7 separate regions of the Homo sapiens genome follow, and all the other regions are linked to region 1. Evidence: fine-mapped expression QTL. A gene starts in region 1. Each other region holds a variant in brackets. All regions are shown on one strand. Distances are from middle to middle.

Region 1 (4,063 bases):
GTGCCAGGGCATTCCAAGCAGAAGGCTCTGCATCGACAGGCACACCAGTGAGAAAAGCCACAGACTATGCAGGAAAAATGACTGCACTGTCAGGGACATAAAGCAGGGACTGAAGATGTGGCAGGAGCTGCTGGCAGGAGCCAAACCCAGGACCTCGCTCTGCAGGCCATGAGGAGCTGTGGAAGAGACTTAGGGACACCTGGCTGCCCATGAGCCCCTAGACTGAGTGCCTAGGTCTAGGCTCTTGACCCAGCATCTACAGAAGGCCAGACTCAGGGGAAGTGTCCAGGGAAGGTTCCTGGATAGAGTCAGAGCAGCCAGAGGCTGCCAGATGTTCATGGGGCCAGGCCAGCAGAGGAGGAGAGAAACAGAGGTGACCCAGCCAAAACTCAACCTCCTCCAGGAAGTCGTCTTGGATTTGCCAGCCTCCCACAGCCACCTGCATTCACGGCCTGTGCTGCTGTGTCCAAACATTTGTTCTACCAGATTTCTGCTGCGGTCCTGTGATGTATGGGGTCGAACGGTATGAAAGCAGCGGTTCAGTCGGGGGAAGCACTCCAGTACTAACAAACTTCAGCTTTCTTTCAACTCAATACTGTGTCCACACTGGGAGTATCCTAAGCAACAATCCCCACCCCTGTCTCACAGGCACTAAAGATAAAACAGAAAACAAGCAGATGAGTGACAATGACAAACAAGAAATACTGTAGGGAGAGCGGTCAGAAAGGTGAGCTCAGACATACCGGAAGCGGAGCTGCCCCCAAGCCAGGAGCGAGCCAGGAACTAAAAGAAGAGGCAAGTGTGCAGCAGAGGAAAGAAAGGGCGCCAGGTGTGGCTGGAAAGGCACCTGGCAGGATGAGGGGCGGAGAAGCACCGGCGGAGCAGCACGCGCGAGGCCCATTTTGAGCCGCACCACACCGCTCACAGAACTTCCTGTGATAAGCAGTGTTCCCTACCCGCGCTGCCCCACACAGCCGCCACCAGACACGTGTGGCTACTGAGTGTCGGACATGTGACCACTGGCACGGAGGACCTGAATCCTTCACGTTAAGGACAATGTAAACAGCCACACATGCCTAGGGGCTACCACACTGGACATGGCAGAGCTTCCAGAGCAGGAGGAGTGCGCCATGAGGCAACAAACACGAGGTCCCTGGAGAGTTTCTGCGGGGGCAGCACAGATCAACATCACCTGAAAGTCCCTGGTGGGGATGTCGCAGGCCCCAGTACCCAGGAAGCACCTTCTTACAACTTGGAGAAGGGACAGAAAGGCATGGAGAGGCAAGCACACAGGAACGGGGTCCCCAGCTCAGGCTCGAAGGCGGGCTCCGCTCGTTGAGCTGCAGGGCACCAACCCTTGCACCCAGCAAGTAGGCGCTGGGGCGCTCCCCGGGACGGCACTGACCTCCAGGCGCAGGCACCGGCTGCCCGGCCCAGAGCCCACCGACCTGGGGTCTGAACAGCGCGCGAGGACCCGCCGAGGGGCTCATGTGCCCGCGGGCCGGTCCCCGAAATGCGGCGCTCTCGCGGGGCTGCGGCTCAGGGTCCCTGGCGCCCCTGGGGTCCACCCCCGGCACGGTCCCGCCCCCTCCCCTCCCCACCGGCGCGGCCCCGCCCCCCGCCCGGCCTCCCGCAAGCCCCATACCACGCCACGCCGCGGCCCCCGCCGGGCTCCGGGCCCCGCGCTGGTCCCCGGCCGCCTCGCCCTCGCCGCCCCACGCCCGGCCCCGGCCAGGCCCCAGCCCCACCGCCGCCGCCTCACCTGGGCCTCGGTGGCTCGCGGACCGCTCCGGGCGCTCACGGCGGGCGAGGCGGGCGGGGCGGGCACCCAAACATCACGTGACGGCCCCTCCCGCCGCCGGCGTGCGCGCCCCCTCCCGCACCAGCCAATGGCCGCCGGTCCCGGACGCGCGCGGGGACTACCCGCCCCAGAGGCCCCGGCGCGGAGCCGGAAGCGGCGCGGACGGCGGTCGGCTGGGCCAAGAGGCCTCTGCGGGTGCGCGCGCGAGTCGGCTGTCCTCACTTGCCTGGTGGTGGGCCTCCGTTTCCCCGTTTCCCCGTTTTGCATATGGGGATGACGGCGAAGGTGGAGGTCACGTGGAGGGCGGCGGCCCGGCGCTGAGGCGCTTCGGGAGCGGGCTCCGCCCAGCCCAGGCCGAGCCCGGACCTCACACGGGCCAAAGCTGGAGCTTCTGCGGGGCTGCGCAGGCGGCGGGTCTCGGCCAGGGCAGGGCCGGGCACCTGCGCGTCTCGCGCTGCGGGGACGGGCGTTGGGCCCCAAGTCAGGCTGCACGGGCTCCGCGTGGGGCCGTGCTCGGCCGGGGGCTGGCAGGCCCCGCGGGGACTCCGGACTCCCAGTGTCACCAACGAGGAAACTGAGTCTCAAGACATCTGAGGGACCTTTGCCCGAGGTCGCAGCCCCTCCCTGGAGGAGCTGAAGTGCAGAGTAGGGAGCCCCTTGCGGAGACCCTCCTGGGACCTCCTTCCGCAGGGGCCTGGGGCGCCTCCCTTTCCCTGCTCTGCCTGCGGGCACTGAGCTCCCGAAAGACTCCAGCCCCTCGCTCTCCCGGTGACCTGCTGGAGAAGACACCTGGGAGGAACCTGCGGACAATGGGTGTGTGTCCTTGGGCCGCCAGGGTCACCTTTCAGCCTGTTTCCCCAGAGGTGAACCAAGAGTCACACCCAAGGCAGGAGAGCAAGAGTGATGAGTCCGCTGCACCTTCTCCGGCAAGCGGAGGTTCTCCCGCCGCCCTCACTCTGTGATGCTTGCTGTGCTTGCGAGGCCTACGCCAAAGCCCTGCGGGCAGCCCTGGGCTCCCGCGGACAGCCTTGCTGAGCTCCTGGGAAGGAGGCGTGCCCTCCCCTTCCCCCACCGCCCCGCTGGCTGGGGTTCTCTGCAGCCCAGGACTGTGCATGTGTGCGCACACGGGTTCTGTGAACACGAACACAAAAGTGTGCTCGTGGACACTGCGTGGTACTGTGTGCACACAGCGCACGTCTGTGAGCTGAGGGAGTGTTCCTGGACACCAGGTGCAAGTGCACAAGTGTGTGTATGCTGGCACAAGTGTGTGCCCAGGCGCAAACATGGGAACGGTAGTATATGGCACAAATGTGTGCACACATGGGTGGGAGGGAAGAGGGGCACATGCCCACCAGCATTCCTGGGCTGGTGCTCAGGCCGGCCTGTCCTGGGCCCACCCACGCTCCTTGCCTTGGTGTATTTCAGTCTCCCCTGGGCTCCCAGGAGGCAGTAGTGTGTGCCTGTCTTGCAGCCTCGCCATGATTTGGACAGGGCTTCACTCTTCGGCTAGGACAGCTAGAGTGCAGGGAAGCCGGCTCCTAACCAGGGAGGATGCCCATGACTGCTGACCCCCCAGCTTCCACTTGAAGGGGAAGGTTCGCCAGGACCAATGCCTGTCTGAGAGCTGTCAGTCTGGACTGAGGATGCCGGGTGCCTGGCACGGTGCCCACCTCCCCTTCCGTGGCTGGCGCTGTCTGTCTGGCCGCCACCTCACTCAGCCTCCTCTGACAGCTCCGTGTTCAGGTGTGCAAAGGAGGGGAAAGTGAAGCCCTTTCCTCCCAGGGCAGACCACCTCCAGGAGCCGCTTTCTTGACCATACAAGGCGTATATGGGGCTGTTTCTGTGCCTGGACACTGCAGGGGGAATGGTCTAGCGTGGGTAGGAACCACCAGAGGAGGGGCTCCGTACCTGTTGGCTCCTCCGAAATCTGGGATGAGCCCGCCTGAGTGCCCCACAGCAAGTCAGGGAAGGTAAACCTCTCCGTGGAAGAGCCAGGAGCCCACTCCCTCAGGCTGAGCCGATGGGGAGGGGGAGGAGGATGCTAAGGGGTCCTCAGGAAGGGATGAGGGAAATAGCCAATAGCTGCCTGGGCCTAGGGCCGGGGCTCCCCTCCCTTCCCTCATCTCTGCCCCTCCCTGGAAGAGGTCATCACATGACCTCGGGCAGCTCTGGGCTCCCTCCTTCCTCCAGAGAAGCAGGACTCCCTGGGAAGAACTCTGGTCCCACCCCTTGGCCAACCAGTGAGACCAACAGGGTGAATAA
Region 2 (4,063 bases), 96 kb before region 1:
AGGCTGGGGTGCGGGCTGTGTGGACACCCAGGAAGGCAGTCACACTGGGATGCGAGCCGTGTGGACACCCAGGAAGGCGGCAGGGCTGGGGTGCGGGCCAGAGGAGACCCCGCAGGTGCTCGGTCTCCCTCACCTCCACAGCGGGAGGATCGGGGGCCTGGTGCCGCTCTCCCCAGCAGTGCAGGACAAAAGCCAGGGGAGGAAGAGATGGCTTAGACGCCCGGGTCCCTCCGCGGCCTCCTCCTGAAAGGCTCACAAAGCGCTCCTTTATTCTCCCCACAAAGGCCCAATTTGGGTCTTGAGCTCCGAGGCTGGGATTAGGGATTTGCTGGCAAGGTGCTGGGGCAAGCGCAGAGGGGACGGCCCTGTGATAGTTTTCCAGCTCAAGAGGCAGACAGACAAAGGCGGCTTTCTCCTCCCCACAGGGCTCAGGGCCTGGGTCCCTGTTCCGACACGTAGGGAAGAGACATGCTCTAACGTGAGTGCTGGAGACAGGGCACACACGGTTTCCCGTGGGAAGAGACTCCGCTCTGCCAGGCATTCAGAAAGCAGGGACCCGAGGCCGGCGCTCAGGGCTCTCCAAGGCTCTGGGAAGGAGACCACTTTCTCATGCACTCCGACCCGAGGGAGGGCAGGGGCCAGGGCAAGAGGCGCTCACACAGGGAGTGGTGGTGTCTTTTCAGGAGCCCCAGATAGCTCACTGTTTCCTCCAAGCAGCAACAGACTCTATTTATTCACTGGTGGAGTCTCTGGAGGCAAAGCCCAGAACATCAGGACGGACACGGCTGTGGCAATGCTTCCCCCAGCCCCACGTTAAATCAAAGGGAAATGGACCCAGAGACAAGGGGCGACCTCCAGCCCTGTGCCTCAAACATGGAGGCGTGTCTAGGCAATTTCCAGCCAGCCCGTGAGAGTGAAGCAGGTCTTCACTTCTGCAGCCCGGCTGGGGACACACGAAGTCCTGGTGGAAATGTAGGCTGAGGTGGCCAGTGACGGCAGAGACAGAGCATGACCTGCCACTGGGGCCATTGCCCTGATGCTGCCCCAGGGACTGGGATGCTGCTCACTGGCTGAGCCCAAGCTGGGTCTGAGACTGACCCTCGACCCAGCTGAAAACTACGGACCACAGCCAGGATCGCCAACTCCACACAGGCTGAGCTGCTCACCCCACACCCAGGGGAGACAGGCAAGAGACGGGGAAGGCAGCAAGTGCCCCTCGCACCTGCCAGGGCTGCCCGGCCTGTGAGTAGCAGCCCCCCAGTCCCCCCACATCAGCCTAGCATCAACTTGGCAACAGTCCTTTTGTTGAACAGGGTTGCATATCATCTCATCATTTATAGTTTGCAAATTCCTAGAAATAATCTAACCTTCCATGATTTCTCAGAAGCACTACTGGCCACTCCCCACCTTTTTAAAAGAAAATTCTACCGAAAGGCAATACATCTGTGTTTCAATGCCAGGTGCAAAGGATATAGCTCTATGACTGCTCACAAAGGAAACACATCCCAGCCAAGACACAGGACACTGG[T/C]CAGGACCCCCGGGGCCTCCCTCCAGCACCTGTCATCCCAGGCCCCCAACAGAGGAGAACCCAGTTCCAACTTCTAACACTGTCCACCAGTGGGGCCTGGTTCTGAATACTACAGAAATGGAATCCCACAGTCTATCCCCTTGGGTCTCAGGCTTCTTGGACTCAGCGTTATGTCCGAGGCATCACTGGTGGGGCCACTGATCATACAGTAGCCACAGCTCACTCTTTTGGCTGCTGTAGAGTCCCCAGTGGCATGAATTCAGCTTGGACTCAGCGTTATGTCCGAGACATCACCAGTGGGCGTGGTGGCCACAGCTCACTCTTTTGGCTGCTGTGGAGTCCCCCGTGGCATGAATTCAGCAGGTGCTGCTTTTCTGTGCTGGTCAGACTGGGCGGTGTTCCAGGTTGTGTCACTGCGTGGGGGCTGCTATGAGCATTCTCCCATGTGACTTCTGTCAACACACAGTTGTCCTGTCTCCACGGGGGAGTGGCCGAGGACTTCCACAGATACCAGAATCTGTGGGTGCGCAAGTCCCTGATATAAAATGACTTGGTATTTTCATACAACCTACGCACATCCTCCCATATATTTAAATCACCTCTAGGTTGCCTATAATATTTAATATGATGTAAATGCTATGTAGTAAATAGCATAGTTGTTCTGCCGTATTGTTTTGGAAATGATGACAAGAAAAGAAGAGGCTGTCCATGTTCAGAACAGCTGCCATCTTTTAAAAATATTTTCAGTCTGAGTGGTGGAATCCATGGATGTGAAACTCATGGATACGAAGGGCCAACTGAATATGCATGTCTGTTGGGCAGAACTGCAAGATCCTAGGTCAGAAAATGCTGAACTTGATATTCTCGAACAGTGTTCCAAAGTGGTGATGCAAAGGCACACCCCACCAGTAAAGGCATGAGAGTGCAACCGCCTGCACGCAGCCCACGCCCGGCTTTTGCAGAGGTTTTCACTCATGTTTGCTCTAGTTATTTGTGTGGGTGTGGTGTGTGGTGATTTACCATCATGGGTTTCTTTGCCATTTTTCTGATAACTCGTGTTGCCAAGTACACAATCACAGGCTTATGAGCCAACCGGAATCCTCTTCTGTGAGGTGCCTGTGGAAAGCTGCTGTCCTTTCATTGTTTTTCAATAGAGTTGTCTGCCCTTTCCTTGTTGATTTGTAAGATATCTTTATATATTAAGGATGTAAGTCCTTTTCACACGTGTTGTACAAACGCCCTGTCTTGTGCTGTGGGCTGCACTCTCTTCCTGGGGTATAATTTTAACAAAGTGTGTCGACCTTCTCCTTTGCGGTTGGCACTTGTGCGTCTGTGTAAGAAATACTTGTCCACCGTGAAGGCGTCGGGGAGCCTCCCATGGTGCCTTCTGGATGTGCTACTGCCTTATCTTTCGCACGTGGGTCTGTAGTCCGGCTGGAAGTGCTTTCTGCACAGGGTGAGCTGACGTTTGCAAAGGGTCCTTTTTTTCCAGTTCAAACATCCGAGTGATCCGTATCAAGCTCTGAATGAATCACCCACCTCCCGTGGCAGGGCAGTCCACCTCGGCCACAAACCCAGCCGCCACGTACGTGTGGTCCGTGTCCAGTCTCCACCCTGTCCCATGCGTTGGTGTGTCCATAGGCTGGTGTGTCCACGGCTTGGTGTGTCCGTGGGCTGGTGTGTCCACGGGCTGGTGTGTCTAGCCTCACACAAACACCACACTGTTTTCATTTCTGTGCTTTATAGTGTGTTCCAATACCTGATAGTATAAATCCCTTTCGTTCTTCTTCAAAATTGCCTTTGCTATCTTGGGTCTTTCATATTTCCATATACATTTTGGAATCAGCTTGACAGTTCACACACACACACACTGAAAACCTGCTGGAACCTTATTGGGATTGTATTGAGCCTACAGATTCACTGGGTGAGAGCTGACATCTCCATACACACGGTATCCCCTCCATGGTTTAGATCATCCACTGGGTGAGAGCTGACATCTCCATAAGCACAGCAACCCCTCCGTGGTTTAGGTCATCTGTCATTTCTCTTAGTAATGTGGCATGTTTTTTAATGTAGAGGCCTTAAACCGCTCTTCATAGAATTTTTTGAAGAAATTTATCTATTGTAATAAATTTATTATATCAGTCTTTAAATTTCCTCTCCAAACTGTCTTTTGCCAGCATACACAATGTCTTCTTGTCTAGTGACCTGTCCTGCCGCATTCACTGATGAATTCTGACAGCACGCTACAGGTGCGTTCGGATTTTCCATGGACATAATCACACTGTCTATGAAACACAGTTTCTTCTCAATCCTACTCTTTTTTTTCATGCCATACTGCGTTGGATACAACTTCTGGCACAATGGGGAACAGAAACCACAGTACTAGATGCCCTAGTTTTATCTTCTATCTTAGGAGAAAAGACTTTAACATCCCTCAGTAAGCCTAACGTTAACTGTAGGGTTTTTGAAGATACCTTCTGGCAGATTAAAGGCACTCCTATCTATTCCTAGTTTGCCAAGAGTTTTTTAGCC
Region 3 (4,063 bases), 79 kb before region 1:
AGTCCAGCTTGGCCGTGCCTGTGGGCTGGGCGACGATGTTGTTATGAAAGGCTGGCCTGGCTGTGTCCATGGGCTGGATGATATTGTTATGAAAGGCCGGCCTTACCGTGTCTGTGGGTTGGACAACGATACTATTACGAAAGGCCGGCCTGGCCGTGTCTGTGGGCTGATGACGATATTGTTATGAAAGGCCAGCCTGGACGTGTCCATGGGCTGGATGATATTGTTATGAAAGGCCGGCCTTACCGTGTCCGTGGGTTGGACAACGATACTATTATGAAAGGCCGGTCTGGCCGTGTCTGTGGGCTGGATGATATTGTTATGAAAGGCCGGCCTGGACATGTCTGTGGGCTGGATGACAATACTGTTATGAAAGGCCGGCCTGGCTGCATCCGTGGGCTGATGACGATATTGTTATTAAAGGCCAGCCTAGCCATGTCTGTGGGCTGGATGACGATATTGTTATGATGCCAGTTCTTTAATTTATCCACAGATTCAAGGTAATCCCAAAAAATTATAGAAAGCTTTTTTTTAAAGAAATAATAATTGACAAACTGATTCTAAAATGTATACTGAGCTACAAAGGGGTATGAGAGGAGGAGATGCGTTTGGGCAGCACGGGGGGCAGCACCAGCATGGCTGGCTGAACACTGTGGCATGGGGCAGGCGAGGCGAGGAACAGCTCGTGGCCACCTCCTGGGTCTCCAGAGTGGACAGTGAGCCATCGGGGACTCTCTGGAACTTCTGCCTGTCGCCAAAGTATGAGAGACATCCTAAAGACGCACTTTTAGGCAGACTCCTGCTGGCAAGGGGAGGCCTCGTGAGGGGCAACGGGGCAGCAAGGCCAAGTGTGGGTCCCACTGGAGGGGGCTCCTCCGGGAAATGGCGACTCCAATCTGAGGCTGGACACTGCTCCAAAGGCCGAGGTGCCTCAGCAAGGGCAACAGAGCAACCCAGGACCAGCAGGGCACTTGGCCCAAGGACACGGGAGCTCACACTGTCAGAGCCAGGGAGTCACCATCCTCACTAGAAAATGGACTGATGATGTCAGCATTCCCACTCGCCATCACGAGGCAGTTGCCACAACAACAAATAGAGTGCCCCTCCCGCTTGTGTCTCACTTCCCCATCCATCCTCACGGCCACCGAGGGAGGGGTCCCACTCCATCACCATAGCATGCATGGCTTGGGGAACAGCAGTGGATCCAGTGCAGGGAGATGGATGAGACTGCACCTGTCTTATGACCCCAACACCAGCGAGGCCCATGTCAGTGAACCTGTGACCCTCACCCGCCCTGGACTGCTTCAGCCAGGAGCCAAGTGAGGCAGAGAAGGCTGGAAACGCTAGCTGTACATTGAGAGAGCGGGCCCATCTCTCCACATTCAATGTGGGATACAGATGCAATGCCCGGAACCATAAGACCCATTTGTCACCTCAAGAGAAGCTGGCCTGAGATTGAATCTGATGCATCAGCAGAGCCAAAAGAAACCAAGTGAACTGGAGCCTTCATCAAACTGCACCTGAAGCCCCACGACCGCTTTACAAAACCCATGTATCCCCACAAAGCCAGCTCTGCACAGTTTTGGTGAAAGGCCAGGCAGGCGGCTACAGGGTCCAGGAAACCTGACCCAAGCATCCCTCTCCCAGCACTCCTGTGCGAGGTCTGCACAGCTGCCAGCTCGGCGGCTCCTGTACTACCAGCCAGGTGGTGCCGTTGCTGCCAGCAGTCAGGTGACTGAGGAGTCTGCGAGGCCTGCCTGGGGGGTGTGTCACCTGAGGCCCATTTGCCCTAGCGCCCTGCCCTAGTCTGCCGGGGCCAGAACCGACCTGAGTACGGAGGCTCTCGCATTTGCTTGTCATTACTTAAGATGCCGTTTAGAAGCACCTCATGTCCCGCGTATCTCATACCTGCTCATTTACTCCCATGACCACCTGTGTTTTACAGACGAAGACACAAGGCCCTGAGTCACAAAAGCACCTGCAGGCTGGAGCTGGTGAGCTGGAGTGGGCAGAGGTAGGGTCAGGACCAGCCCAGGCTCCCTGGCACCGGGTCCCGAGCTCTCCCAGCCTCCATGCCAGCTTCCAGGTGACACACTCGCCCTGGAAGGCACCCTGCTGCCCACTCCAGACTCGAGTGGTTAATCGGCGCTCCCGCCCCTCTGTCCGTGTTCCTAGTGACTGCGACGCCCCTGCCGGTCCCTCGGCTGAGGGGGCTGTGGGAAGAGCCTGTGGCTGGGCTGGTTTGATTTCCTGGTTCCTGCCCTTTCCCAGTAGGTACACTGCCCCGTCCTAGACCTGGCAACACCCCAGGAGTGACTCCATGTAGACCACGGCCCAGTTTCATGAGCAGGTGATGCCCAAGTCAACACAACGCAGTGGTGTTGGTGCACAGACCCAGGGACCGCCCACGGTGGAGGAGGTGGCCAGGGCGAGTGGGCCGGCAAGGCCTGGACTGAGCGGGCCTGGAAGTGAGGCCGGCAGAGGGCAGCGCGGGCAGAAGCCTGAGGCCGTGGGACTGGAGGGG[G/C]TGGTGTGGCCCATGAGACAGGTCTACAGTTGTCAGGGTCATGCTGGGCGGACCTGAAAGGCCACAACACAGACTCTGGGTTTTACTTTACAGGGAGGGAGGCCAGTGGAACATCCTGAGCAGGAACTGATGTGATCAGATCCACATTTTTAAAGATCGCTTTGAGCTCTGCATGGACAATCCACCGTCGGGGGCAAGACTAGGGGTGGGGAGGCCAAGAGGAGACAGTGCAGGAGCCCAGGGGCCAAGGCCGGGCCTGGACCAGGAGGTGGAGAGGAGGTGAGAAGTGCGTGGACACGGGGCAGCTCAAGAGGAGTGGACAGGCCAGCCCACGACCGGTGAGGGCAGGGTGGCGTGGGGTCCTGGAGGTCCCTTCCTTGGCCTGGGACTAACAGGGAGACCCCAGGTCAGTCCAGAAGGACCCTAAGTTAGCAGGAGAGAAGGTGGCAGGGCTGGAGGGACACCTGGGGTTCTGGGGCCCCACTGAGGAGGGATTCCGAGCTGCGGGATATGCAACACCACCAAGGGAGGGGAGGAGGTCAGAGAGGAAAAGAGGCTGGAGTAGATGGATGACGAACCAGCACCAACGAAGACCAGGGCCCTGGAGAGCATGAGAGGGATGAGGAACCAGCACCAGTGAAGGGGAGGGGCCCCAGAGAGCACGAGACGGATGACGAACCAGCACCAGCGAAGGGGAGGGCCCCGGAGAGCACGAGACGGATGACGAACCAGCACCAGCGAAGGGGAGGGCCCCGGAGGGCATGAGACAGATGAGGAACCAGCACCAGCGAAGGGGAGGGCCCTGGAGAGCATGAGACGGATGACGAACCAGCACCAGTGAAGGCCCCGGAGAGCACGAGACGGATGACGAACCAGCACCAGCGAAGGGGAGGGCCCCGGAGACCACGAGACAGATGAGGAACCAGCACCAGCTAAGGGGAGGGCCCCGGAGAGCACGAGACGGATGAGGAACCAGCACCAGCGAAGGGGAGGGCCCTGGAGAGCATGAGACGGATGAGGAACCAGCACCAGCGAAGGGGAGGGCCCCGGAGACCACGAGACGGATGACGAACCAGCACCAACGAAGGGGAGGGCCCCAGAGACCACGAGACAGATGAGGAACCAGCATCAGCGAAGGGGAGGGCCCCAGAGAGCACGAGACGGATGAGGAACCAGCACCAGCGAAGGGGAGGGCCCCGGAGACCATGAGACGGATGACGAACCAGCACCAGCGAAGGGGAGGGCCCCGGAGGGCATGAGACAGATGAGGAACCAGCACCAGCGAAGGGGAGGGCCCCGGAGAGCACGAGACAGATGAGGAACCAGCACCAGCGAAGGGGAGGGCCCCGGAGAGCACGAGACAGATGAGGAACCAGCACCAGCGAAGGGGAGGGGCCCCGGAGAGCATGAGACGGATGAGGAACCAGCACCAGCGAAGGGGAGGGCCCCAGAGAGCACGAGACGGATGAGGAACCAGCACCAGTAAAGGCCCTGGAGAGCATGGGCTGCACAGCAGGAGGAAACTTCTAGAAGGAATCA
Region 4 (4,063 bases), 120 kb before region 1:
CTGACACCATGGAGGCCAAGTCCTTGATGATCTGATTCACATCCAGCAAGTTGCTCTGTGGAAACAACATAGAACCACATCAGGAGCAGGGCTGTGGGGCAGACACCAAGGGCACCTGAAAGTTTCCCATGGAACCTGGGGCGGGCCCAGGTGGCACCTGCAGAATCAGGAACCAGAGAACAGCTGGGGACCGGCTGGTCTGTCCACTTCCTGTGACAGAAGGCATGACTGGGTCCAGAAAGGGCCAGGGGTGAGCCCAGGGTCACCCCAAAAGTCAGAGACAGGGCAGGGATCTGAGTGCTCCATCTCCTGACTCTGAAGCCAAACCCCAACCTCTCCAGGTGTCCTAGGGGCTGTGAGCTGCTTCCCTGAGTACAGAGGTCCCAGGGTCTGTCCCCAGGATTTGCAGTCTAGTGAAGGACAGCATCCCCAGCACTGTAAAGGCCTGACTGCAAGAGAGCAGAGAATGTCTAGGGCAGATATACCATCCCCACTTGCCTGGGTGCTCCTGCACAGAAGGGTCTACCTTTCCCTCTCTGTGTAACAGCACTGAGCATGGGCCAGCACACAGGCACTGCTCAGCAAATCCTAAAGAAGTGGGATAGATGGACGAACGGGTTCAGGGGAGTGGACAAAAGGGTGGATGGGTAGATGAAAGGATGATGGACAGATGCGTGAATAGGTGGGTGGACAAATGGAATGGTGGATGGGTGGGTGGATGGATGAATAGATGGGTGAGTGGATGGATGGGTGGGTGATGGGTGGATGGGCGAGTGGATGGACAGATGAATGGGTGGATGGATGGATGGGTAGATGGATGGATGCGTAGGTGGATGGATGGATGGGTAGGTGGATGGATGGATGGGTAGGTGGATGGATGGATGGGTAGGTGGATAGGTGGTTGGACAGATGGGTGAGTAGATGGATGGGTGGGTGGGTAGATGTATGGATGGGTGAATGGATGGATGGGTGGGTGGGTGGATGGATGGATGGATGGATGGATAGATGTGTGGGTGGGTGGGGTAGGTGGATGGATGGGTGCATGGGTGGGTAGATGGGTGGATAGGTGGGTGGGTGGGTAGATGATGGATGGATGGATGAGGGATAGATGGATGATGGGGGGATAGATGAGTGGGTGAATGGATGGAAGAGTGAATGGACGGTATGTGGATGGATGATGGACAGGTGGGTGGGTGGGTTGGTCAATGAGCGGCTAAGTGGATGGTTGCTCCACTGCTATCCAAGGACTGAGTGGCTCCATGAAGCTAGTGAACAGAGTAAGGAACAGAAACGTGGGCCAGGAGGACTTCGGGTACCCCTCCACCCCGGCATACTGTGCTGGCCTCTTCCATCTTCCATGCTGTCTACCTTTACCCTAACTCCTTTTTCCCAGTTAAGTGGCTCTGATGATCCTAAGAGACGTGGCCACGCCACTCTCAGAGCACACACCTGGGCTGTGCTTCAGGCAAGGCACATACCATCCCCTTCACACCTGGCACCCACCCAGGGGCATCCTAGCACCCATCTAACAGAGCAGGGATTGGGGGCTCAAGTGGTCCCATGACCTCCAGGGCCTCTCGGAAAGGGGAAGAGTTGGGATTCAGACCCCTGCCCACCGACCAGATGCCCACTCCTTCCCTGACTGCCACGCTGCACCTAGGACGGCTCCTCCGCTGGCCAGATGCATGGCCCTGGGCAAGCCTGGCCACCTCAAGCCAGGTTTGCTCACTTATCACCCGAACAAAAGCAACCCTCCTCACATAGCGCCTGGCACATGGCTGGGTTCCAGCCAAGTCCAGGGGAAGATCCTTCAGGCCTGCCGTGACCCCTGCCCTGGCACACCCGTCCAGTCAGCAGCTCATTCCAGAGCTGGGACTGACTTCCATGAGGGTCATTTCACCCCACTGCAAAATGTTACAAGGGAATTCATTTTCTCTTTAGGAGTATTCTGGGAAATGAAGCAATTAGCATGATCTTAAACTGACACGTAGTATCAATTGCAATTCAATTATCAGGCTTAAATGTGATGCAGAGGCAGGCGGTCCCTCTGCAGGAACTGGGCAGT[G/A]GCTGGGAAGGTAGCGAGAAGGTGGGGCCCAGGGGTCATGGCTTCAGTGTGCATCTGTGGCATGGCTATGGGGGCAACAGTGAACGAAAGGATGGGTGCGGGTTGGCCCGGGCCGGTTTCTGGTCTCCTCGTCACCACCACCTTCTGCCAGAGTGAGGTCACGGGTTCTGGAGACCAAGCCTAGGCTCCATCCTACAATGGGGACATCAAGGTCACGAAGTATGGCTCAGCCAGGTGGGTCCCCACCTCCACGGGCTTCCCAGTTATAGACGTGATCCCGTCAGAAGCCAGGCATGACCTCACCACCAACTTCGACCCTGGCCACTGAGCATACCCAGGCCTGGTGCACCCTGAGCCTGGTCTTGGTGGCTCATGGCCTCAGGGACTTGCAGGGGCCTTCCCAAGGGCTTCACAGGCAGAAGCATCTCCTCATGCGGCATGTGACTCACCTGTTATTGCTGCATTTGACAGGGAAGACGGAACCTGAGTCACTGAGAGGGTTAGTGACTGCCCAATGACACACAGCTGGAAAATGCTGGAATCCGCATCCAACCCACATTTAGACAGACTCCAACCCAGGTCACTACCACCATCAACGCGGGGTGGCACCCAAGGCCACCCTCCAGGATGTGGAACCCAGGACCCCGGCCAGATCTCAGGGACAGTGGGCCGCCCTCCAGGTCGTGGAACCCAGGACCCCGGCCAGATCTCAGGGACAGTGGGCCGCCCTCCAGGTCGTGGAACCCAGGACCCCGGCCAGATCTCAGGGACAGTGGGCCGCCCTCCAGGATGTGGAACCCAGGACCCCGGCCAGATCTCAGGGACAGTGGGCCGCCCTCCAGGTCGTGGAACCCAGGACCTCGGCCAGATCTCAGGGACAGTGGGCCACCCTCCAGGATGTGGAACCCAGGACCCCGGCCAGATCTCAGGGACAGTGGGCCGCCCTCCAGGTCGTGGAACCCAGGACCTCGGCCAGATCTCAGGGACAGTGGGCCACCCTCCAGGATGTGGAACCCAGGACCCCGGCCAGATCTCGGGGATGGTGGGGCTCCCTCCAGGATGTGGAACCCAGGACCCCGGCCAGATCTCAGGGACAGTGGGCCGCCCTCCAGGTCGTGGAACCCAGGACCCCGGCCAGATCTCAGGGACAGTGGGCTGCCCTCCAGGTCGTGGAACCCAGGACCCCGGCCAGATCTCAGGGACAGTGGAACCCAGGACCCCAGCCAGATCTCAGGGACAGTGGGCCGCCCTCCAGGTCGTGAAACCCAGGACCCCGGCCAGATCTCAGGGACAGTGGGCCACCCTCCAGGATGTGGAACCCAGGACCCCAGCCAGATCTCAGGGACAGTGGGCCGCCCTCCAGGTCGTGGAACCCAGGACCTCGGCCAGATCTCAGGGACAGTGGGCCGCCCTCCAGGTCGTGGAACCCAGGACCTCGGTCAGATCTCGGGGATCGTGGGGCTCCCTTCAGGACGTCCCGTGCTGCAGCCACCAGCATGGGATGGGCCTTACGTGTGTGCACCCATCAATCTGCTTCCCATGAGCAGGGGCAGAGAAAGGCCACACTGGCATGATGCTGCTGTGTCCCTGGGGGGAAGCATGGCTCCGAGCCCCTGCCCAGCCTGTGGGGATGCAGCTTTGGTGAGAGATGCCAGGGAGGGGTGTGGCTGAGCAAGGCCGGGTCCAGTGCCTTTCAGGGGCCTGGGACGCCCAGCGGCTGGGGCGGGGTGGAAGAGGGGCAGCTGCGAGTCCCTGAGGCTCGGCCTCAGTGTTCCAGGCACGCCTCTGTGCACACACGGCCACTGCACTGGGCGTTCCCTGCTGACATCAGAGTCAACTTCCACAACCCCAAAAGCGCGGGCTGGGACACGGTGTTCCCAAGACAGGCAGAGACCCTGTGGTGCCCCCAGGGCACAGATGGCCTGCATTCTAGGTTTTGGGGGAGGCCCCCGGAGGCAGTGGCAGAAGTGATTTTCCATCTCATCGCCGACACTCACT
Region 5 (4,063 bases), 86 kb before region 1:
GGCTGCACCAGGCCCACAGGGACAAGACAGCCATGACAGTGCTCCGGGAACCGAGGCCGACCCCACCTGGCCTGCAGACCCCCACTGCCCCCACCAGCACCTCACCTTCTGCACCACTCCATAGCACTGAATGGCATCTGAGAGCTGGGTTTTCAGCCGGTCCAGCTGAGGACGCTCCTGCTGCAGACGCTCCTGCTGCAGAGAAGGTACAGCTGGCACGGCATGGGAGGCTTGGCCCTGCCCCAGCAGCCCCCACCACCCACACCTCCTCCCGTACCGATGTCCCACCTTCCCACACTCAGAATGGGGCTCGCCATCAACTACTTCCCCTCCGTGTCACCGTCGTCTCCACAGGCACACCCAGGGTCCCCAGGGACACCATCACCACAAAATCCGGTGCAGGGGTCAACACCACCTGCCGGAGCCAGGAGCTACCCAAGGCACATAAACCCGGCCCCACACCACCTCCGCGAGCAGCACTGTGACTCCTCTTCCACAGCGCAGGACGTCGTGGCCCTGAGTCCCGAGTGACTTGTCTGTGGTCACATAGGTGGTGGGGCCACTGCCAGAACCATCCCCCTCCCCAGCATCTCGCCTGTATCTGGGCTCCCCGTGGCCTCCAGGGTCCACCAACCCCAGTTCCTTCCTGCTGGGATGTTCGCCACCACACCTCAGTGCCCACCAGGCACCTGCTTCAGAGCTGGAGCTGGAGAAGCACGGAGCCGGGGTGGGGCTGGACACGCACGGAGCCGGGGTGGGGCTGGACACGCAGCCCTGGGGCCCGCCTCATTGCTCTGGCTCACCGTGGACACCACCCACCAGCAGCAGCACCAAGGAGCCCACAGCTTCCTCCCAGCACCCACCCCATGGCTATCGGAGGATTGGAGAGAGCCAAGGCTAAGGCGGGCTGGTCTGGGGTAAACCTCTGACAGCCGAGGGGCACTGGGAGCAGCCTACCACAGCCTTGACCTCTTCCCACAATCGAAGGCACTACATCTCATCAAAGCGTCCACGGCCCACAGAGTCAAAGACGTGGTAGGCACTGACCGTGCACCCACCAAGCCGCGTGAAGGAGCCATTCGCTTCACGAGGAAACTGCCTGCACGGACCACCCAACTCTGCTCTCACCCCACAGAAACGCCTCTCAGAATCGCAACCCTCCACCATGTGGGGCCTTGCTCAGCACCTCACGTAAGCGCAGCGCCTCCCGTAAGAGGGACCCAGCGTGTATTCTTGGATGAAGGAGTAAATGAATAAGTGACTCAGGCACACCTGAGTCAGAGAATGGAGAACAAAGCTACAGAGGAAGAGGTCAGACACAGGCGTCGATGCTGGTCATGACGCTGCTGACATCACTGCCCGAGGGCACAGGCCAGGGCAGCACCTGGTCCCCACAGAGTGGTCCCCGCAGGGCAGCCATGGCTATGAGGAGTGACCCATGCATGGAAAGGCTCCAGGCCGCTCAGCACAAAGCTCCCAGTGTTCCTGTCATCTGCCTTTAGGGAGACTCTGGCCACCCCATCACTGGACAGGGGACTGCTGCCTCTGTTACAGTTTTTTAGTGTAACTAACTTTTGAACTGACTCTACTTTTTTAAGTACAAGTTTTATTACTGTCTAATTTAGATCTGATAAAATCTACCCGCTTTAAGTGTAGAGTTCAGTAACTCTTAGTTGTACAGCCATCCCCACAACCCAGTTTTAGAACATGCCCATCACCCCAGAAAGGGCCCTGCGCCTTGCCTGCAGGCACCCCAAAACCAAGCCCTGCTCCCAACCCTGACAACTGCTCATCGACTTCTGGTCTCCACAGATTGCATTTTCTGGATGTTTCACACAAACAGAACCATACACTGTGCGTTTTCTTGCGTGGGGGCATGCAGTCTTCCAGCCTCACCACATTGTGGCCTGCCTAACTCTCCGCTCCTCACTGCTGACCACACCCAACACGGCACTGGCCACGTCACATGTATTTTCCACAGGGAGGGCGGCATGCA[T/C]TTCCCCTGTAGGACTGGCTGAGCCACGCTGCTGGCTCTGCAGCAGGCCGAACTTGCAACCCCAGCCCTCCCAAGGCAGTGAGAGCAACTATGGGCAGCACCTACGGCAGGGACAGATTGGCGTCTCGCTCACACTGTGCACGTGAAGCAGGTGCGGCCAGCAGCTCACACTGCACACATGAAGCGGGTATGGCCAGCGGCTCACACTGCACGCGTGAAGTGGGTACGACCAGTGGCTCACACTGTACGCATGAAGCGGGTATGGCCAGCGGCTCACACTGTACGCATGAAGCGGGTATGGCCAGCGGCTCACACTGCACGCGTGAAGCGGGTACGACCAGCGGCTCACACTGTACGCGTGAAGCGGGTATGGCCAGCGGCTCACACTGTACGCGTGAAGCGGGTATGGCCAGCGGCTCACACTGTACGTGTGAAGCGGGTATGGCCAGCGGCTCACACTGTACGCGTGAAGCGGGTATGGCCAGCGGCTCACACTGTACGCGTGAAGCGGGTATGGCCAGCGGCTCACACTGTACACATCAAGCGGGTGTGGGCAAGCGGCTCACACTGTATACATGAAGCAGGTACAGCCAGAGTCTCACACTGTGCTTATGAAGCGGGTTCGGGCCAGCAGGCTGCAGCTTGCTGACTCCTGCCCTGTAAAATCTTAGGGTTCAGCAGTATTTAATCTTTTGTCACAAGTACCCTCCAATCTTCAGCAACTGGGCACTGACCTGGTGTGGTGGAGCGGAGGGTGTGGGGACAGTCAGAAGTGGGGACAGGGCCAGGCGTGGTGGCTCATGCCTGTAATCCCAGCACTTTGGGAGGCAGAGGTGGGAGGATCACTTGAGGCCGGGAGTTTGAGACCAGCCTGAGCAACATGGTGAAACCCCACCTCTACTAAAAACACAAAAATTAGCTGGGCATGGTGACGGGCGCCTGTAATCTCAGGTACTCAGGAGGCTGAGGCATGAGAATCACTTGAACCCTGGGGGCAGAAGCTGCAGTGAGCCAAGATCATGCCACTGCACTTCAGCCTGGGAGACAGAGCAAGACTCCGTCTCAAAAACACAAAAAAAAATTGCGGACAGGGTGGAAATGAGGGAACAGCCCTGGGGCAGCTGAGCCGGAACGGTAGTGATGGCTGTGGCAGTGGGTATGCTGATGGCCACTGCCACGGCCATATGTCTGGCTTGAGGCCCATGCGTCTGATAAGGCGCCAAGGTAGGTGAGGGGATAGGGAGGGTGCACGTGCAGGTGGCCTTGGGTGGCGGATGCAGCAGAGGGGCAGGGGATGCACAGCAGGGGAGAGGATGGTGAAACAAACAATGGCGGGCCATCAGCTTCCAGTAAGGCCTTGCCAGGAAGACCCAGGGTGCTCTTGTCCCCACTACTGCATAAGCCAAGGACAGCAAGAGTTCAGGTGGCCACACCAGCTCCCGGCACGTGGTCAGCACACGGCTGCTGCCTGAATGGCTGCACACAGGTTCTGAGCCATGGAGCCATGGGAGGCTGGGTGCCAGGCCAGTCTGTGTCCATCCACACACGTCAGCCTCCCTGTATCCTGCCTCGTGTGACATCCCTGCTCCCATCACAGGCAGAGGGGTCCATTCCTCTCCTCCCTCCCAGCCCCAGACCCCAGGAACATACCGGGCAGGAGCTGCGCAGCAGCTCGGCCATCTGCTTCACGGAGCTGGCGCTGGCTGCAATGGTCTTGTTGGTCTCCTGCTGTGCCGTGTGCCTGGGGGCCGAGAAGGAGCCAGGAGCGAAGGCAGGGGAGGAAGGCAGCAGAGAGCAAGGGCCCAGAAGGACGGAGCAAGCAGGGACGCACGGGCCGAGTGGGGGAGACAGAGACAGATGGATGGACAGGCGGAGAGAGGGCCGAGAGACACACAGAGACAGAGAAAACAGCAGAGAGGAAAACAAGAGTAGGGAAAGGGTAGCAAACAGAAAGAGGCAAAGACTCAGAGAAAGAGAGAAGGGAACAGAGACAAGAGCAGCGATGATTCCCACAGAGAAAGAGGAGGGGGCCCAAGAGCCAGGACAGGGAGAGACAGGCAGACACCC
Region 6 (4,063 bases), 140 kb before region 1:
GGCACACATGGATACACATGTACACACGCTGTATGCACACACAGATGCCTGTGTGCACACACAGTACACGAGTGCATAAGCTGTGCACATATACAGGAATGCACACTGGTACATGAAGGCACGCGTGTGCACACTGCACACATGCACACAAATGCACACACACACGGATGCATGCATGCAGGCATATGTAAATGCACGCACCCGCCCACTGCTGCCCCGAGTGCACACCTACGCTGTAGGTGGAACTCAGGGAGTGCTTACTGTATCTTGGACAAGTCTTCTCTTCGCCCCCTGGGCCTTCTGCCTTCCCTCAGTTGGGACCCAGTCAGCTGCAGAACTTGTGCTTTTTTTTTTTTTTTTTTTTTTGAGACAGTGTCTCACTCTGTTGCCCAGGCTGGAGTGCCGTGGCGTGATCTAGGCTCACTGCAACCTCTGCCTCCTGGGTTCAAGCCATTCTCATGCCTCAGCCACCCAAGTAGCTGGGATCACGGGCATGTACCACCACACCTGGCTAATTTTTTTTGTAGTTGTATTAGAGACAGGGTTTTGCTTTTTTATCATATTTTTAGTAGAGACAGAGTTTTGCCATGTTGGGCCAGGCTGGTCTCAAACTCCTGACCTCAAGTGATCCACCCACCTTGGCCTCCCAAAGTGCTGGGATTACAAGCGTGAACCACCACGCCCAGCCAGAACGCATGCCTTTCTGTTGCTCACCTCAGAGACCCCAGAACCCACCCAGCTCAGAGTCTGGAAGAGCCCCAGATGCAGGGCACGGTGCCAGAACAGAGGGGTGTCCAAGGTGTGTGTGGGTGCAGCATCACCGGGGCCCTACTCCCACCGCCAGCCCAAGGGGCCCCTGAGCCACCGCTTTGCACGGTCCGGCAAGCTCAGGCGAGATACATCCAGCCACAGTCACGCTGCAGCTGAGGCGTGGCACAGCCCACCTTGAACCCAGGTCTGTCTGACTCTGAAGTTGCTCCTGAGTCACCAAGGACACTCCCAGGTGAGGTGAGGAGGATGGGCACGTTGTCTGAGGACGGGGCCGAGGGGCAGAAGGGCGACAGCACCCCAACTCCCGTGACTGCTGTCTCTACCCTTCCCTCAGCTGTGAGCCTGGTATTTATTAGACGCAGCAGATTGATTTAAATCTTTGCCTAGGGTTATTTTTCTGTTCAGCATTCTCCCAGAGAAGGACTGGTCAAGTGGGCACGGCCAGAGCTTCTGTAGACAGGAAAGGGCACGGTTTCTGGGGTCCCAGGCCTGAGAGGGCCGAGTTCAGACTGGGTCACCCTCCCTGCCCCCCATACCCCTACAGGCTGTCCTTTACAGCACCTGGAAACACAATTCACATTTACATTTCTCAGCAGACTGGGGGAAGAATCTATAACAATCTGATCACGAAAATGAGATTCTCCAGTGTTCTCTGTACCCGCGGACACTGCAGGCAGCTCAGGCCTCAGCAAAATCCAATTGCTGTTTATTTAACCTGCTTGGCCTCCCAATTAAAAGGCAGCCTCCTTCGCCCCGGACACAGGCCCACGTCCCCCACAAGCAGCCTCTTACAGGGCTGCCACCCCAGCACCGGCGCAGGCCCCTTCCCCTACCGTTCTGCTACTTCCCTGCCTGCAACGTGGCTGCTCCCAGCTCTCAGGATTAGAATACCGAGTTGCTAAGAATGCAACTAAGGGGTTCTGGAAGGAGACTTGGTGGCACGCCTTCCCCCGGGGGCACCTAGGGGATGCCTCGTAGCAAACCCTGAAGGCTGTTGTGGCGAGGAAATTTGGCCCTCAGGAACAGGGCAGTGGTTCAGGGCCTGGTGCACCTTCCCAAACTGGCCCCACCCTGCCCAGGTGCCCTCGGGCCGCAGAGGCCCAGGACTCACCCTCTGCACTCCCCCAGCCCGCCTCTGCTTGGGCCTGGCTTCCAGGCACAGTTAAGTGTCTCTTCCTCCAGGAAGCCTCCCTTGATTCCCTAGAGCCAATGGCTAACTCCTTCCTCCGGTCTCCACAGCCCCGAACCCAGAGCCTGCCACCTGGAAGCCACCTCAGAAAAGCGTGCAACGTCTTACCCTGGGGCAGGCCCCTAATTTTACAGGGAAGAAAGTAGAAAAAGTCAAATCATGATTTCAGCACAACTAGCTCAGAGCCTGAGAGCCACAGAAGCACAACTGTTTAGAGATGGAAAGAGAGAAGGGAAGGAGGGAAGAAAAGCGAGTCGGGAAGTTGAGGGCCAGATGAGCAAGCATGGGCACTGGGGCCGGGTCTGGCAGCCCACTCTCAAGGGACTCAGCCCTCCCTGGCCAGGCGTCCTCTGTCCTCCCTTGGGGCATAAACTGGCCGGGGCCCACGGCCAGGGAGGC[T/C]GGGTGGGTTATCAGCTAACCTTGCCCTTTGTTGGCCTTGGATTAACTCAGAAGCCCAAACTCTTTAGCCACCATCTGACCCAGCCTCACTTCTCAGAACCTTGAGCCCCGTTCCCCTGGAAAGCTTCGATGTGGCCAGAGACCTCTCTGCATGTCTTCATCTCACCCCAGCAGTCGGCTGAGTCCCCCGGGAAAGATCCTGACGCCCCAGCCTCACCAGTTCCTGGGGGAAGCACAGAGGGCACATGCACTCTGTGATCTGCCTTTACTGAGCACCTACTGCATGCAGAGCTCTGCCTCAGGCACTAAAGCCCTGCCCCAGAGCTAATGTTCCACAGGGAGGGAGACCACAGGGCAGAGCCTCTGCAGCTGGGTCAGGGAGGGAAGGGAAGGTGAGGGCAGATCTTCTGATAAGCACATATCTGAGACCTAAGGGGAAGCAGCAAGGCAGGATGCAGAGAGGACAAAGCAGTCAGGGAGGGAGGGAGGGAGGAGAGAGGGAGGGGGGTGGGGAGGGAGGAGAGGAGACAGGGAGGAGAGAAAGAGGAGGGAGGAAGGAAAGAGGGAAGCAGGAGGGAGGAGAGAGGAAAGGAGGAAGGAGGGAAGAGAGGGGGAGCAGGGAAGGAGAGAGAGAGGAGGGAGGGAAGGAGGAAAGAGGTAGAAGGGAGGGAGGAGAGAGGGAAGGATGTGGGAGGAAGGAGAGAGGAAGGGAGGGGAGAGGGAGGAGGGAGAGAAGGGAAGAGGGAGAGAAGGAGAGAGGGAGGAGGGAAGGAAGGAGAGAGAGAGGATAGAGGGAGGGAGGAGGGAAGGAGAGAGGAAGGAGGGATGGAGGAGAGAGGGAGGAGGGAGGGAGGGAGAGTGGGAGGATGAGGGAGGAGGGATGGAGGAGAGAGGGGGGAGGGAGGGATAGTGGGAGGAGAGAGGAAGGAGGGATGAAGGAGAGAGGGAGGACCGGGGAGGGAGAGTGGTGAACACCTGCTGGGAACTCAGCACATGCTGGGATGCTGGCACTCCCTGCTTTCTGTAGTTATTTGAAGACTATAGCCGCTCCCACTGCACAGGCGCTGTGATGCCTCAATGCATTGACCCATGTGAGCCCCAGGATGTTCCTGGCGGAGGAAAGATCTGTGAAGGCAGCATTTCTCCTTGCTCCTCATCCTGGCCACGGCCCCGGGGTGGGGGTGCAGGGGGTTATTATTCTCCTTTAACGATTGCGTTTTCCCGGCCTTCCTGCCAAACCACGAGCTCCGACAAGGCAGCTCACGGGCATAGAGGGGTCTGAGGCTGCCCTCGCTATACCCAGCAGAGCCTCCTCCAACATGCTACGAGTCTGTCCTTCAGACCTGCCCTGGGGGCACAGGTCACAGTGCCAGATGCCAGCCAAGTCCAACCTGGGCAGCAGGGCTTATGCCCAGGAGAGTCCTGCCGGCCACAGCTGCCCAGGGCATCTCCCCAACAGCCACTCCTTCCATCCCACGGCGGGGCCAGCCTGCTCCCAGCCCCATCAACTCTTGCCTGGTGTCCCTCTCACAGGCTCATGAAGCTGCTCACGCCAACCTGCTCATGGTAACAAGACAAGGCCCAGCCCTCCAGCAGACACCGAAGTCCCCTTCAGGCCTGCGGCGACTCCGTGGTGGGACAGCAGTCTCTCTACCTCGTCCTTCTTCTTCCAGGTGGCATGGCTGTTTTTAGGCCTTCGTTTGC
Region 7 (4,063 bases), 190 kb before region 1:
GTCCCTGGATCCCTCGGGATAGTTCTCCAGTCATCCCCAAAACTTGGCCCCTCACTTCCTGCCCAGAACTCTGGGCTCTGCCAGGCCCAAGGTCTACCTTGCGCTGGGCCTGGGCTGTTCCCTCTGCTGGAATGATTTTCCCTGCACCCCACTCTCGGTGAGGCCTGTTTAAAATCACAACCAGCCTCATTCCAGCCCCTGCTACGGTCTGAGTGCTTGTGTTCCTCCAAAACTCAAAGGCGAAAATAACCCCCAGGGTGATGCTGTGAAGGGTGGGGCCTCTGGGAAGTGCCGTGGTCCTGAGGGTGCAGCCTCCTGGTGGGATCCAGGCCCCAAGAGCTCCCGCCCTCCCTCCGCCACGTGAGGATGTAGGAGAGGTCACCCTCAGCAGCCCAGAAGGGCCCTATCAGAACCCAGCCCTGGCGGCACCCTGATCTGGGACTTCCAGCCTCCAGGGCAAAGAGCAGTTTCTTCTGTGGTAGAAGCCGCCTGTGGTGCTTGGTTACAGCAGCTGAGCTGATAAGGACCCCTCACCGACAAGGGCTCCCTCCCCCAGCGCTTCCCACCTCAGGGGCTTCACCTCTGGCCTCATCACACTCTGTCCATGCTCCTAGCCAGACAGTTGCACCTGCAGGCAGAGACCTGTCCTGTCCATGGAGGTGTCCACAGAGGTGTCCCCGGGCCCAGGCCAGGGCCCGCACGGACACCATGAATGCGTATTGATCGAGTGAACAAATCTGTGATGTGCACGGCTGTTTCCAACTCCCAGGCACTGCACTGCTCTGGCAGAGTGACTGCCAGACCAGGATCCAGCTGTGTTCGGAGGCACCCCCCACTTCCTAGCTGCCTGGGGATGAGGGTGGGGGCGCCCCAAGGATGGTGGTGCTCAGCGTGCCCCTCAACACAACGCAGTGTCCTGGTGTCAGTGGACAGGGTCTAATGCGAGGTGGCAGCAATGGTGGTCAGGGAGCAGCCTTGCAGTGCCTGATGCCCCCATCTTCTGGCCAGAACTGCCCCTCCCATCCCCACATGTGTCCCCCAAGATTGGGAACTGGGTCTCATCCATTGCCCTTGTCCACCACCACCCCTCAGCCTCCCCACACACACTCTGTCCAAGCCAGGGCAGCAGGGCCCAGCCTCGAACCTGAGAACCCCCAGGAGAGCTGTCCCCCGTGACCTACCAGGGAGTCCTCCCTGCCCTCACACCTGGAGGGCAGACTGAGCCGAGAGAGGGGAAGGGCAGGCCAAGGGGGCAGCAGCCTGGGAGGGAAGTCCCTGCCCCACCCAGTACACACCTGTGAGAGGCCAGCTGGCAGTGGCAGCCCCATGTGGGCACCTTTGCTGAGGCTGCCAGCTCAGCCCCACCCAGCTGGGCCTGGACACGCCCTTCAGCATCTAGTGCAGGCCACATTCCCCTGAGCTCTGGAGGCTTGAAGGTCAATGGGCCAACCCTCCGCCTGCACCCCAGGCTGGCTTTGTGGTGCCATGGAATTCGGGGTGAGGCCTGGCTGGGGATACAGGGATGGATGGCCCT[C/T]GGGCCCTGTGCAAATTCAGCCCAGCCTCTGCCTGCCTCAGCAGATGGCATGTGGCATCTGCCGGCTGAGTGGCCCTGTGATGGGGCAGATCTGAGGGGGAAAGGTTCCCATGGCATCCTCTAGGCCCAAGCCATGAGCCTTCCCCACTCCCTGCCGCCCCTCAGCCCCAGCTCCTCCAGACCCCTAGCTGGGTCTCTTCACCCCCAGGGCCCGGTGTAGAAGAAGCTCCCACCTCTGCCATGGTGCCCCCGCCCCTCCTCTGAGGGCTGAGCCTCAGCCATATGGCACTGAAATGAATGCTGCTGGGGAGATCTTTGGATTGGAACAGATGGGCGGACGCTGGTGCAGTGCAGAGAGGCAGGGGCTGGGGGTGTGGGGCTGGGAAGGATGAGGCCTGGGCTCTCCCTGATCAGCTGAGTAGCACAGGTATAATCACTGGGACTTGAGGAGCTGCCTGGGCTCTGGCGTCCTCTGGCCACACGCTCGGGGGCCCAAGAGGGGTCTCCAGGAAGATGCTACTGCAGGGTTATGGAAATTGGCTCTCAGGGAGATGAGGCTGGAGGGTGTCGGCCTCCCGGCCTGGCACAGCAGCATAGCACCCCCTGTCCCACCCCACCCCTCCCCGCACTGGTCAGCAGCCTGGGCACGGGGCACAGGGCTCTGCCTCACTCCATCCTCTCCCTCCTGCCTGAGAGGAGCAAAGCCTGGGGTGGGGGACGAGCAGAGGCACAGACTCAGGCCGGCCCAAAGTCCTTGGCAAGGATCAACCCCTCTGAGCTGTCCTCATATCTGTAAAATGGGCAGATACTTGGCACCGACCCTGCCTGGTTGTTTATCCTCCTCTCAGTCGACAAATCTGCCTCGGACATCCCTGGGCCCCACACTGGGCTGGACACCAGACAGCAGGGGAACCGGGGTTTCAGCCCCCATCAGAGGGGAGATGAAACAGGGAGAGGAGACGGTAGGTGAACAGTCGTGGAGAAACTGCCTAAGGACCGGGCGCGGTGGCTCACACCTGTAATCCCAGCACTTTGGGAGGCCGAGGCAGGCAGATCACGAGGTCAGGAGATCAAGACTATCCTGGCTAACACAGTGAAACCTTGACTCTACTAAAAATACAAAAAATTAGCAAGGCATGGTGGCACATGCCTGTAATCCCAGCTACTCAGGAGGCTGAGGCAAGAGAATCACTTGAACCCTGGGAGGTGGAGGTTGCAGTGAGCCGAGATAGGGCCACTGCACTCCAACCTGGGCAACAGAGCAAGACTCTGTCTCAAAAATAAAATAATAAAATAAAATAAAATAATAAAATAAAAAGAAGAAAGAAAGAAAGAAAAAGAAAGAAAGAAAGAAAGAAAGAAAGAAAGAAAGAAAGAAAGAAAGAAAGAAAGAAAGAAAGAAAGAAAAAAGGGAAAGAAAGAAAAAGCAAGCAAGCAACGGCGTAAGGAATGGCTGACCCCACAAGAGGCTTGGGCCCCTCTGCTGCTGTCCATGGTGCTGAGATCTTGAATGCTGGCCAGAGGCGAGAGCCAGCAGGCAGGCAGGGGCAGGTGGTCATGGGCAGGGGTGAGCCCTTGAACTGGGTTTATCACCTAAAAGGTGACTCTGACCTACTCACTTCAGCTACGTCAGCATCAACTTTTTGCTCCAGGGAAACAGTGTGCATGCACCATGCTTTCTGGCCTCATCAATGAAGGGTCAGGGCTAGTCCATAGCCAGGTTTAGGTTCAGCCTGTGACCAAGGTCAGGGCTCAAAATGTAACTAGAATTAGGGTCAGTGTGTGACCAGGATCAGAGCTTAGTTTGTGACCAGGATCAGCGTTCAGGGTGTGGCCAGGATCAGCGTTCAGGGTGTGAGCAGGATCAGGGCTCAGTGTGTGAGCAGGATCAGGGCTCAGTGTGTGGCCAGGATCAGGGCTCAGTGTGTGACCAGGATCAGGGCTCAGAGTGTGAACAGGATCAGGGCTCAGAGTATGAGCAGGATCAGGGCTCAGTGTGTGACCAGGATCAGGGCTCAGAGTATGAGCAGGATCAGGGCTCAGTGTGTGGCCAGGATCAGGGCCCAGTATGTGACCAGGATCAGGGCTCAGAGTGTGAGCAGGATCAGGGTTCAGAGAGTGGCCAGGTCAGGGCTCAGTGTGTGACCAGGATCAGGGCTCCGTGTGACCAGGATCAGGCTCAGTGTGTGGCCAGGGTCAGGCCTCAGTGTGACCAGGATCAGGACTCAGAGTGTGACCAGAGTCAGGGCTTAACGTGTGACCAAGATCTGGGTTCAGTGTGACCGGGATCAGGCTCAGGGTGTGGCCAGGGTCAGGGCTCAGGGTGTGGCCAGGGTCAGGGCTCAGCGTGTGACCAGGTCATATCCAGTGTCCACCCTGGAGAGCTGCCTGTTGAGGCACCACGAGGGCCAGACCACTTTGTGGGCTCCCTGGAGCTTCACTGTGTGGGTTTCTAGGCCTTCTTGGAGCACAGACCACTCAGAGCCTGGTCTGGTTGGGAACAGTGCCCATCCCTCAGCTCACTGCCAA

What was found. PIP is the estimated chance that this variant, and not a neighbour inherited with it, causes the effect. A credible set is the group of variants that fine-mapping cannot tell apart.
Region 2: its variant is the best candidate, but not a certain one, in a credible set for the expression of TSNARE1 in spinal cord (GTEx, PIP 0.90).
Region 3: its variant is the best candidate, but not a certain one, in a credible set for the expression of TSNARE1 in prefrontal cortex (ROSMAP, PIP 0.59).
Region 4: its variant is the best candidate, but not a certain one, in a credible set for the expression of TSNARE1 in tibial nerve (GTEx, PIP 0.79).
Region 5: its variant is the best candidate, but not a certain one, in a credible set for the expression of TSNARE1 in visceral fat (GTEx, PIP 0.58).
Region 6: its variant is the best candidate, but not a certain one, in a credible set for the expression of TSNARE1 in esophagus muscle (GTEx, PIP 0.58).
Region 7: its variant is the best candidate, but not a certain one, in a credible set for the expression of TSNARE1 in whole blood (INTERVAL, PIP 0.86).

The regions. Positions count from the first base shown.
Region 1 is chr8:142,401,342-142,405,404 of GRCh38, forward strand. TSNARE1 (t-SNARE domain containing 1) reads right to left here and starts at 1,841. Exons shown (of 14, transcript NM_145003.5): 1 at 1,763-1,841. RefSeq lists silencers at 1,400-1,539, 1,680-2,249, 2,690-2,739 and an enhancer at 1,971-2,746.
Region 2 is chr8:142,305,401-142,309,463 of GRCh38, forward strand. All of the region lies in intron 9 of TSNARE1 (t-SNARE domain containing 1), which reads right to left. Among named protein-coding and RNA genes, the nearest start is that of TSNARE1, 96 kb to the right of the region's middle. The variant T/C (reference allele first, on the strand shown) is at 1,529.
Region 3 is chr8:142,322,700-142,326,762 of GRCh38, forward strand. All of the region lies in intron 6 of TSNARE1 (t-SNARE domain containing 1), which reads right to left. Among named protein-coding and RNA genes, the nearest start is that of TSNARE1, 78 kb to the right of the region's middle. RefSeq lists enhancers at 3,270-3,469, 3,780-3,919. The variant G/C (reference allele first, on the strand shown) is at 2,525.
Region 4 is chr8:142,284,431-142,288,493 of GRCh38, forward strand. TSNARE1 (t-SNARE domain containing 1) reads right to left here. Exons shown (of 14, transcript NM_145003.5): 11 at 1-55. Among named protein-coding and RNA genes, the nearest start is that of LINC00051, 88 kb to the left of the region's middle. The variant G/A (reference allele first, on the strand shown) is at 2,066.
Region 5 is chr8:142,314,898-142,318,960 of GRCh38, forward strand. TSNARE1 (t-SNARE domain containing 1) reads right to left here. Exons shown (of 14, transcript NM_145003.5): 7 at 3,647-3,737; 8 at 106-195. Among named protein-coding and RNA genes, the nearest start is that of TSNARE1, 86 kb to the right of the region's middle. The variant T/C (reference allele first, on the strand shown) is at 1,997.
Region 6 is chr8:142,258,134-142,262,196 of GRCh38, forward strand. All of the region lies in intron 12 of TSNARE1 (t-SNARE domain containing 1), which reads right to left. Among named protein-coding and RNA genes, the nearest start is that of LINC00051, 62 kb to the left of the region's middle. RefSeq lists an enhancer at 1,914-2,414. The variant T/C (reference allele first, on the strand shown) is at 2,360.
Region 7 is chr8:142,214,434-142,218,496 of GRCh38, forward strand. The region is part of intron 13 of TSNARE1 (t-SNARE domain containing 1); the gene reads right to left. Among named protein-coding and RNA genes, the nearest start is that of LINC00051, 18 kb to the left of the region's middle. The variant C/T (reference allele first, on the strand shown) is at 1,535.